Linked DNA regions of Homo sapiens. The protein of the gene in region 3 interacts with the protein of the main gene of each other region in a pairwise test. Each region holds a gene or a part of one and is shown on either strand. Other genes may lie near its edges. The genes, in order: KLHL2, CTNND2 and TBKBP1.

The links.
Region 1: the proteins of TBKBP1 (region 3) and KLHL2 interact in a two-hybrid assay, tested with the Homo sapiens proteins (one study listed by BioGRID).
Region 2: the proteins of TBKBP1 (region 3) and CTNND2 interact in a two-hybrid assay, tested with the Homo sapiens proteins (one study listed by BioGRID).

Annotation. Positions count from the first base shown.
Region 1 is NC_000004.12:165,315,429-165,319,180, reverse strand, and holds part of KLHL2 (kelch-like protein 2), read right to left. Parts: intron 1,356-3,752; coding exon 1,212-1,355; intron 1-1,211. UniProt on the Homo sapiens protein: Substrate-specific adapter of a BCR (BTB-CUL3-RBX1) E3 ubiquitin ligase complex that mediates the ubiquitination of target proteins, such as NPTXR, WNK1, WNK3 and WNK4, leading most often to their proteasomal degradation.
Region 2 is NC_000005.10:10,973,823-10,977,574, forward strand, and holds part of CTNND2 (catenin delta-2), read right to left. Parts: intron 1-3,752. UniProt on the Homo sapiens protein: Has a critical role in neuronal development, particularly in the formation and/or maintenance of dendritic spines and synapses. Involved in the regulation of Wnt signaling.
Region 3 is NC_000017.11:47,697,139-47,700,890, reverse strand, and holds part of TBKBP1 (TANK-binding kinase 1-binding protein 1), read right to left. Parts: coding exon 3,698-3,752; intron 2,297-3,697; coding exon 2,116-2,296; intron 1,572-2,115; coding exon 1,396-1,571; intron 1,256-1,395; coding exon 1,194-1,255; intron 1-1,193.

The DNA.
Region 1 (3,752 bases), on a different chromosome or scaffold from region 3:
TGGATACTCACAACAGCTGAGCTCACCAATACAGCAACAGGAGACGGCTATAAAATTATTATAGTAGTACAGTAACATACTACAGTTAATTTCATGCAGTTATGATTTAATATTGTATCTTTGTGGTTTGTTCACATTTCTCTGGACTGTGAATGACACCATCTATGGTTTGTGGGTGTTTGTTCCCATAAGAGTTTGTGTGCATATGTTTTGATAAATTTTAACTTTTTGTAACAGATTTGTAGATATTTTGTAGTAAATGATAAAACAGACTAGTATCTACGTATATTTTATGTGTTCATAATCTTAAACTTAATTTTTTCAATATTTCTAGGTTATGCAGTGCATCTGAGTTTTTTCAAACTGTTACCAATCTCCAAAAAAATTTTTCCAACATAATTATTGAAAAAAATCCACATGTAAGTGGACATACACAGTTCAAACCTGTGTTGTCCAAGGGTCAACTGTACGCTATGTATTCTGTCAGTTTATACCTCAATGAAGTTGTTTTAAAAATTCATCTAATATTCACCCATGTTATACTGGAATTCTACTGTACATAGTTCTTCTCAGTACTGTTTTGAATGATACATAAGCAACAGTGATGGTTAATGAGCTTAAACATTTTCTTCCTCCACTATTGGATCAATTTTGTTACAGAAACATTATACTATTAAAAGCAAGATAAATATAATTGAAATAAATAACATAAAGACTCACCATAATATTTATTAAAATTAACATTTATCTTACTAAGAGAATGGACCAAAAAATCACATTTTATAACTCAACCAGTACTATGCTTAAGAAAGAAAAATTATTCCACAGCCTCACTATAATACTATCTCATGGAGCCACACCATGGGGAGATGTAGGAATCCTATCCTATTTCTTGGACATCTCAGGAATTAAAGCCTTGCCACATATGAATTCTTCTCCTCTGCATACAGATTTTAGCTACATTAAATTTTATTATATGATTTTGTATATCAAAGATTTGGGATTTTGAATACAAATGACTGTAGAATGACAAAAGTATACTGGTGCTTTATTTCAGAATATACACAGCCAATGTTAATCATCTTAAGAATAAGATATAAACTATACCTTGAGAAAAGACTTTATTCTTATAACAGAAAAACTTCGTTAATATAACATTCATAATGAGGTCATCTTTTTGTACGGAAATTGACTTTAGAGACAACTGTTACCTGCATAACTTCTCCCTGTGCTCATACACGATGACACAACTGTCCATTTATCGGTTGTTGGGTTATAATATTCTACTGACGCCAAGTTACAGGAACCATCATCCCCTCCAACAACATATAACAGACCATTAACTGCACAAACTCCTTTAAAAAATTACAGAGAGAAAACAATTATTTAAAAAATTGGGATGAATATGAGTATCACTGTACATGTTTAGTGAGGTAATCCAGAGACACTAATTTCTTTGAAAGGAGGCAAGAAGAGAAAATAGTGAGCATGAAAAGAATTCGTTTTATATTAGGATAGCCAGGCACCATGGCTCACGCCTGTAATCCCAGCACTTTGGAAGGCCAAGGTGGGCAGATCACTTGAAGTCAGGAGTTCGAGATGAGCCTGGGCAACATGGCAAAACCCCATCTCTACTAAAAATACAAAAATCAGCCAGGCATGGGGGAGTGTGCCTGTGGTCCCAGCTACTCCAAGAGGCTGAAGCCGGAGAATCACTTGAACCCAGGGAGGCAGAGGCTACAGAGAGCCAAGACCACACCACTGCTCTCCAGCCTGGGCAACAGAGTGAGACTCTGTCTCCAAAAAAAAAAAAAAGAATTCTTTCTATATTAGGAGACCATAATACCACTTCTAAGCTCCTACTGAGTGTCATTTATGCAGTAGTTACTTTATATATGCATTATTCTACCTAATTTTCACAACATTATAGGTTAGAAACTATTTTGACCCTCATTTTTTTTTTTTTAATAAAAAGTCAAAGTCAGCTACTTAGGGAATCTTAAGGAAGAAAATATATGTTAGTAGAAGGTAAAAATATTCTTAATTTTAATTATCACACTGAATGGTTAGCTATTTTATCTCCCTTTAAAGAGAACAATATTATTTATCTATTAAAATAACTCTTTTCTTTGCAAAAATTCAAAACATCTAGAAAAGTATTATAAGAAAAAAAGATGACCTCCAACCTTATGTCTCTTAGAATAATGACCATTAAAATTTTGATCTCTACTCTGGCTAACTTTTCTCCATGCATATATACTCAGACACTTTCTTTTTTAACCCCAAAGTAGCTCACACTACACATGCTACTTTATTAAATAACTTACCCACCCTGGCCAACCAACCTACCTTGGACATTTCCTCAAGTTAATAAATATAAATGTAATTTTTATGTATGACAGTTTATTTAATCATTTTTTTACTGATGGATATTTAAGTAATTTTGATTTTTTTGCTGTTACCAATGATGTTGCAATGAACAAAGATCCCCTGAACAGTGTTTTGAATACTTGAGCAATTTTTCTTAATATAAATTATTAGAAGGAAAACTGCTGAGTCTAATGGTAAATGCTTTTAAAAAGCTATTTCAATGTAATTTTTTAAAAGTACATTTAATTTCTTATAAAAAGTTCAGTGCTACTATGAACTTATACTAGAGGGCATCAAAGAATCCCGAATAATGCTGCCCAAATCTACAAAACTTTGTAGGAAAAAAACTCATACCATTTTAAAGTTGTTCAAATACTTAAAAGCAAGAATCAAATGCTGCTGCCACACAAGCTCCACACAGTAGTTACATGTGTATGCAACACTGTATTTCAGCCTATTGATGGACAACATAGGACTGTGAGAGAAAAAATGATCTCAAAAATGGCCCTGCTATGATGGAAGGCATGAACAAGGAGACTATATTGTTCTAAAGAGTTTTCCCAATCATATCTATGAGGGGCTCACAGATTAAAGAGCATCCCACTGCAGAAAGGGAGGTTGGTCCATACATCCATTTGAATATCTTAGCTATACATTCAGAAGACATCAATTTTACTAACCCACTAACTCACAACACCAGATTCCTTTTAGGCGATAGGAGCCAAATCACTTTGCCAAAAGGATGCACCTTCCTGCAGTGTTTGATGGTTCCAGTTTATTCAGTTTACTTCAACACAATCAAATTCATATTGAGAACCTATTACAGATGTGCTAGGTATTAAAGGTCTATATATAATCATCTAATTCAAATTTATTTCATTTTTACTCCACTCTTGGTGTCATAATTTACCATACTTATGAAAACTTTTGAAATCTGGCTTGTAAGCTGCTTGCTATTTCAAATTTATATGGATGCTTTCACCTCTCCCCGCTTAACATTGAATACATGTCCTCCACTCTTTGCCAGCTTAGTTCTTTCTTTCCAATAATTTAGGTGCTTGGATGAGGTCCTTAGCCTAGGTTATTAAAAAGGAAGAGCTGAACAGATCTTATCAGAAGTTTGTTTCAGATTATCAGGAATATGGAATGAGGGTGAGATTTTAAAATACTCTTATGAACTTAAATAATTTTAAAATATATGCTCAATTGGATTATACTGTATCTTGTAAATTATAGAAGTAAATAATTCAAATTTTGTTATTTGCATAGAAAATAAACATCATTGATTGAGAAGGAAAAACAAACTGAAAAGTAAGCTTTCAGATTTCTCTCTCTTCCTGATTATCAAATAAACTCAAGTAATGTTGTCTAAATCAAAATAT
Region 2 (3,752 bases), on a different chromosome or scaffold from region 3:
CATTCACCACTGTGGCCCTGCTTCTCCAAAACTGCCAACTGTCATTGGCTTTCCTTTTGAAAATTGGATCCTAGGTCCACGTGCTATCATTCTACATAATCTTTATCATGGCAAAATATACATAACATAAAACAGCTTGCTTTAAGAAATGTTGAAGTGTAAGATTAATTAGGTGGCATTAAGAACATTCACAGTGTTGTGCAACCATCACCACCATCCGTTTCCACCACTTTTTAAATCATCCCAAACAGAAACTCTGTGCCCATTAAATGTAATTCCTCATCCCCTCTCTCTCAGCCCATGGCAAGCACCATTCTACTTTCTGTCTCTAGAAATCTGCCTAATATAGGCACTGCAGAGAGTGTTTGTCCTTGTGTGACTGGCTTCTTTCACTTAGCATAAAGTTTGCATGGTCCATCCATGGTGTTGCACATGGCAGACCTTGATCCGTTTTTGTGGCTGAATAATATTCCACTGTATGATGTGCATTGCTCCACTGATGAATGCACTGAAGGCCATGACTTTACCTCAATGTAGCAAAACTGCACTTGCACCCCCATGATTGTATATATATAAGAATAAAATAGTCCATGGTATGCATAGACCACATTTTATTTATCCATTCATCCATTGATGGACGCTTGGGTTATTTTTACCTTTTAGCTGCTGTAAATAATGTTGCAATAAACATTGGTGCATTTGTATCTGTTCTAGTCCCTGGGGTCCCTTTTCAAGCACCTGCCCCTGAAATGAGCAGAACCTCCCAAGGTATAGGGTGAGGTTAACCCTACAGCAAGTGCATACCGGGATGCACAAAGCTCTGCTAATGTGCAGTAATTGGGGAGGAGATCTGGTGTGAATTATTAAACACTCTTAAAGAAATACTGTTTGATCACTTTTGGGTGGACTCAGTGACTCCCTATTAATTTAACTAAAGTTCAGCACGGAAACGTTCTCTAGAAATTGGTCTTAGTTAATAGATAATGATTTGTAATTAGCACGTTGTGTGTAAATGAATGCTTTTAAAGGCTTACACATAATTCTTCTCTCAAGTAAGTGAAACTCCCTCTTATATATGTCATTGATTTATACTAGTAATCAACCTGATCTTCAAAGAAGTGGTGAACTTCATCACAGCAGCTGTCTAGGATGTCCCACGTGTCTAGTTAGTGGTAGCTGAATGAATGAGGTTTCTGTCTACCTACAGAAGTCCAAAAGTCCATAGAGGATAAACCTTTGTTAGCCTGAGAGCTAACAAAGGATGAGAGGAACATTTGGAATGAATGTGCAACATCTGCAATTAAATACTGCTAAGTCCAGGTCTACTGGACTGCGTTGCTAGGTTGGGGTGCCCTTTGCTATTCTTTGAAGAGCTCTGCTTGTGTGCTGCTGAACTCCACTCCAACACAGGGCTGTTTTCCAAGTGCAAGACATGCAAAGGCTCAGAATCTAGAAGTTTGGAAAAATTATACAGGGAGGGAACTAGATTTGCTGTGTTTCTTGTTCAGCAGGGCACCCTATTCAACATTTAGCAAATTCTTTAATACTCCAGTAGTCATAAATATTTATGTGTGTTTGTGTCTGTCTACATCAATATCTATAATCTATCATCTGTCTGTCTTCCTATCCACCCACCAATCCATCCATCCATCCATCCCTCAAGCAAACTCCCACCTTATAGATGAGAAAACTGAAGCACAGAGAAGTTAAGAAACTTCTCCAAAACGTCATAGCTAGTGGTGTTGTGAACTGGAACTGGAACATACGGCTGGCTGACTCTAAAACCCAGGTGTTCTACCAACGTAGTCCAGTCCCATCAGAGCCAAGGTGGCCAAACCTTGGAGGACAGGCCTCAAGGAGCTGACTCTAGGCTCTAAGATAAGAAAGTCGGTGGACAAAAGAGACCAAGAAGCGGTGTGTTTTCTTATGGATTTTTGGGGGCCAGGGAAGGCAGTGCAGGGGACAGGGACATCTTCAGGAGGAGTCACTCACAAGGGTTATAGCTCTCCTCCAAAGTGGCTTCTGCTTTCATTTTTTTGGTTCTTTTGCACAACCTCGTTCAAATTGCTTTGACTGTTGTCATGTTCTCTCTGGTTGGTGAACATTTGGGAGCTGGGTATCAGCTTTTTCAGCCTCTTACCCCAGAGAATTAACTTCTTCATTCATCTGTACTGTTCATAAAATCCCACACCAATCACTTCTGAGGTTTGGTGCCCCAGTCCCAAAAGTGTGTACAAATGAACTGTCACAGGTGACACGTGTCACTGCTGCACCCGGAGAGACAGAATTTGCTCACTGTGGTATTTGCTCTTGTGGTATGGACATTTCTGTGGTATTTGCTCTTGTGGTATCTTGTGGTATTTGCTCTTGTGGTATGGACGTCTTGTGGTATTTGCTCTTGTGGTATGGACGTTTGCTGGTGAAACACATCCACAGTGGAGGAATATTGGCTGCATTTTAAACTTTAAGGGAATATCTGACAGTTGAAAATCTGGCTGATGAAATGACCCCTCCCAAAGCCCTCCTCACATAAGAGCTAAAAATAAATGCATTAAAAATTGCACAGTTTGCATCAGCCAGATTTGGATGAGGGATGTAGAATGATGCCCCAATAGAGCAGAGGGGATTTCTGAATCTGGGTGTCTGTTACGGTCTAGAGAAGCCCAGGAATACGCAAGCCCGAAGCTTTTGCCTTCTTTGCCTTAACGCTGCATCTTGTTTTGGAAAGGGGTGGTGACCAGCAGCTCACTCCAGGGTCAATATGCTCACGCTCTCTGCGCTCTGTTCCATGGCTTCTGTTTCTACCAAGTCATCTTTGCTGAACTTTTTCCTCAACAGTAGAATATTCACTCTAAATTATGAAGGATAGTGTCATGACACCTTCCAACTCTGTTAGCATAATGACAAAAGACTTCTTTGGGTTTATTCCTTAATGAATTTGCCAGGAAACTGGATTTATTTTGAACACAAGGGAAATAGTAGCCCAGTATAGCTCTTCCAACTTTTCCATGTCTCAGAGTGTTCATAGAAAGACTCAGAGTGTTCACAGAAAATGAAGGAGGCCAGATATGAAGTATCAGTGGTCTTCAAAGCATAATCCCAAGACCAGCAGCATCAGCATCACCTGGGAACTTGTTAGAAATGCAGATTACTGGGTCCCACTCCAGACCTACTGAATCAGGGCCTCTGGCGATGGGCCCCAGCAATCTGTGCTTTAACAGCCCTTTGGGGAATTCTGGCTCATGCTCCAATTTGAGAACCATTGGCACAGAGGTAAAAAAAATGGGACAGGAAGACAGAAGAACCAAGATGAGTATTTGCCTCTTCCTGGCTGGGGGACTGAAGGAAACACGTATCCTCCTGGGATCTCATCTTCCTCATTTCTGCAGACAATTACAACTGGCCTGCTCACGTGACAGTGGAACTAAGGACACCAGGAAGGAACTCAAGATTCCGGTTTTGTTATCATTTAAATATTGGTCATCAAAACAGCAAAGCTCTTTGTTTCTAGTTCCTGAACAAAAATCCTGTTGTCAGCTAGATAGATACCGTTCAACATGATATTTCTCTTTGTAATTATGGGGTGGACTGGTAGAAGCTCAAAAGGATGTTTGGAAAGTATGCATAGTTAAGTCTTTTTTTTTTTTTGAGACAGGGTCTCGCTTTGTCACTCAGGCTGGAGTGCAGTAGTGCAATTATGGCTCACTGTAGCCTCCACCTTCCAGGTTCAAGCCTTCCTCCTGCCTCAGCAT
Region 3 (3,752 bases):
CACCAGGTTCCACTGTTGCCGGGTGGCTGCTCACCCCTCCCTTGCTGTCCAGTGCCCCCCTGGAGGCCCCAGCACTGGGCCCCCCACCAACACAGCTCCCTTGCCGCTCTCTGCTGCCCCTTTCTTGGTAGGATTCAAGGGAGTACCCTAGCAGAGCAGATTCTAACTCCCCACCCCACGGCTGTGTGAACCCATGGAAACCTCTCCTGTCTCTAAGCCTCAGGCTTCTCTCTCCTGAGATCAGCAGACAAGGCCCAACAAATCCCAAGAAACACCACCTCCCTCTTCCTCACTAGGGAGGGGAGGGTGAACCCAACTGGCCGGGCCTTGTCACTGGAATAGAAAATGGGGCCCTACGGAGGCCCAAAAGCTCAGCAGGGGACATTACACTGGACACAGCGACAAAGCAGCCGAGTAAGTGTCACTTAGCCCTGGCATCTCCAGAAGAGATGGGTTTGGGCCCCAGAGGAAAGCAAAGGGAATGTCCCAGATCCCAAACACTCAAGAACCCCACCTCCCAGGAGTCGAGACCAGCCTGACCAACATGGAGAAACCCCATCTCTACTAAAAATCCAAAAAAAAAAAAAAAAAAAAAAAAAAAGGTCCGGGCGCAGTGGCTCACTCCTATAATCCCAGCACTTTGGGAGGCCGAGGCGGGCGGATCACAAGGTCAGGAGATCGAGACCATCCTGGCTAACGCAGTGAAACCCCATCTCTACTAAAAATACAAAAAAAAATTAGCCAGGCGTAGTGGCGAGCGCCTGTAGTCCTAGCTACTCAGGAGGCTGAGGCAGGAGAATGGCGTGAACCAGGACGCGGAGCTTGCAGTGAGCCGAGATTGCGCCACTGCACTCAAGCCTGGGTGACAGAGCAAGACTCCGTCTCAAAAAAAAAAAAAAAATTAGCTAGGCATGGTGGTGCATGCCTGTAATCCCAGCTACTCGGGAGGCTGAGGCAGGAGAATTGCTTGAACCCGAGAGGCAGAGGTTGCGGTGAGCCAAGATCACGCCATTGCACTCCAGCCTGGGCAACAAGAGCGAAACTCCATCTCAAAAAAAAAAAAAAAGAACCCCACCTCCTTCCTATGAAGGATGCACACAGAGCAACAGCAGCCCAGACACCACACCCCTGAGGGCTGGGAGGGGAGGTCTCCCAAACATCACGGAGGGACCAGGGTTACCAATGTGACTTACTGATCATCCCCAACTCTTTTCACCCACGCCATGTCTCGCTCCGACTGGTTGGAGGCCAGATCCTAAGGAAGAAGATGAAGAGGTCAGAGCCCAAGCTCACCCCTGCCAGGGCCCTTGTCTACAGTTCCCTGGGCCAGTCTGCACACAGTGGGGAAGGCCCAGCCCTGGACCTCCAGAAGCTGTTCCAGGCCCCTGCATTTACCTGGGCCCGGGTCTCCTGCAGCTGCTTCAGCTCCCCCTGCAGCCGCTCGCACTCGGCCTGGAGCTGCTCCTCCCGGAGCTGAGCCCCCCGGGCCTCTCCCTGCGCGGCCTCCAAAGCCTCTTCTAGCCGCCGCCGCTCCAGGTCACTCACACTGGGTGTGGAGCCCGGCCAGCCTGCTGTCGGTGGACAGGACAACGTCAGGCGAGCTCAGCTGCCTCCTCCAGCTCCCAGAGCCAGAGTGAAACAGGAGGATGCAGCATGGGGACTCCAAGAGAGAAGCCAGGACAGCTAGCCAAGGAGGGATGACTGCGACAAGGGCAGCGAGGAAAGATGGGCTGAGCCGCATTTCTAATTTTCCTGGAGGCCAGGAAAAAAATAAGATGGGCTCTTGAAGGCTTTACTGGCCAGACTCAAGTCTAGAGCATCTGCAAGGGCCTCTCCTAGTCACAGCCAGAGACGGGGCGGGGGGACTCTGGGTGGGGGCGCCCTCTGCTGGCAGGCACAGGAATTGCAACGAGGTGATCAGGAATGACCGAGTTAGAAGGGGAGAAATTAGGGTAACAGTGGGTGAGGTGAGGGGACAGCAGGTAAGGGAGGATGGGATGATTATGGAGAAATAGATTATATTACAAATGGGATGGTAAGTAAGTGCGAGGTGTCTAGGAATGTTGAAATGGGGGTTGGGGACTAGGAGGTAAGTCGGGGTCACTGAGATCTCACCATGACTCAAGCCAGATCCCCCTCTCAGTGCCAGGTAGTGCAGGTCTAAATCAGTGCAGGGAGGGGCGGGGGCTGGCGGTGGGCTCAGGTTGGAGAAGGCTGCATCCTGGAGGCCTTGCTGTTGCCGCAGCTGCTGCTCCAAACCACAGATCTGACGCAGGTGCGTCTCCACCAGGGCCCTCTGGAGAGAGAGACAGAGGGGAGGGTCTGCACAGGCCCAGGACTTCCCCATGTCTGGAGAGTCATCACCCCAGACTACAGCAGAGGCCCCAGGTCACACATCCCAAGCCCACTCTCCAAGTGGCTGTGAGTGCAAAGTCTCCTCTCAGCCACCGCAATGCAGCTGTTGCGGGCTGTTGCCCCTGGCGAGGTCAAGTTAATGCCCCTGCTCTGTCATTAACACACAGGGACACTTAAAAGAACACTCAGCCCCCTGTTTGGAGGCCAGCCCCCCTCAGGAGCATCAGAACTTCCATTTGCATACATGACAAGAGCTTCTGGACTTCACCCACCTGATCCATAAAATGGGGATAACAGTCCCACACTCACCTCTTAGGGTTGTTTTGAGAATTAAAATGAGCTAGTGTATGCCAGGTGAAAAGAACAGTGCCTGGCACACCCCGAGTGCCACATAAATATCTATGATTATGAAGGCAAAGCATCTATACATGAATGCCCCATCACCCTCACCACAACCTGGTGAGGGTGTTAATATTTGCCCCACTTTTCAGAGGAGGGATGGAGGCTAAGTGACTTAACTGAGGTCATAGCTTAGGGTTGGCTGAGACCATGTCTCCTGATTTTTTTTTTTTTTTTTTTTTTTTTTGGAGACAGGGTCTGGCTATGTCACCCAGGCTGGAGTGCAGTGGCTTGATCTTGGCTCACCAAAGCTTCGATCTCCTGGGCTAAAGCGATCCTCCCACCTCAGCCTCCTGAGTAGCTGGGACCACAGGTGTGCACCACCACACCTGGCTAACTTCTTTTTTGTATTTTTTGTAGAGATGGGGTTTCACTATGTTGCCCAGGCTGGTCTCAAACTCCTTAACCTCCCAAAGTGCTGAGATTATAGGCGTGAGCCACCATACCTGGCCTGTCTCTTGATTTTGACCTGCTCACCGGCACAGCCATACCCTGACTCGGAAGCACACCCAAGCACAGGCCCATCCTAGCAGTCACACACTCCTGGTCACCTCTGCCCTCACCCTCACAGCCTCCCAAGGGCAGTGCTCACAGGCACAGGGTCACCCCAGCGTGAGAGCCAGGGCAGTGCTCACAGGCACAGGGTCACCCCAGCGTGACAGCCAGGCATACACACAGAGACAGAGGTTCCCACGGGGCCACTGCATGGCCAGGATGCACACAGACACCGCAACATGGATAACACATGCAGTCTCCCTCACAAGGGCAAATGGGCGGGCACTCACAGATACACATGAACACAAGCAGGGCACAAACAAGTGATGTGTGACACATGGGACTGCACTGTCACAGGCTGGAATCCTCACACACAGAACTAAATGCACACATGCACACACACAACCAGCTACACATCCTCAAGCACCTCCGGCTCCCCAGGCCTCACCATCTCCCTCAGCTCTGTCTCCAAGTCACTCTTCTCCACGCAGAGTTTCTCGTAG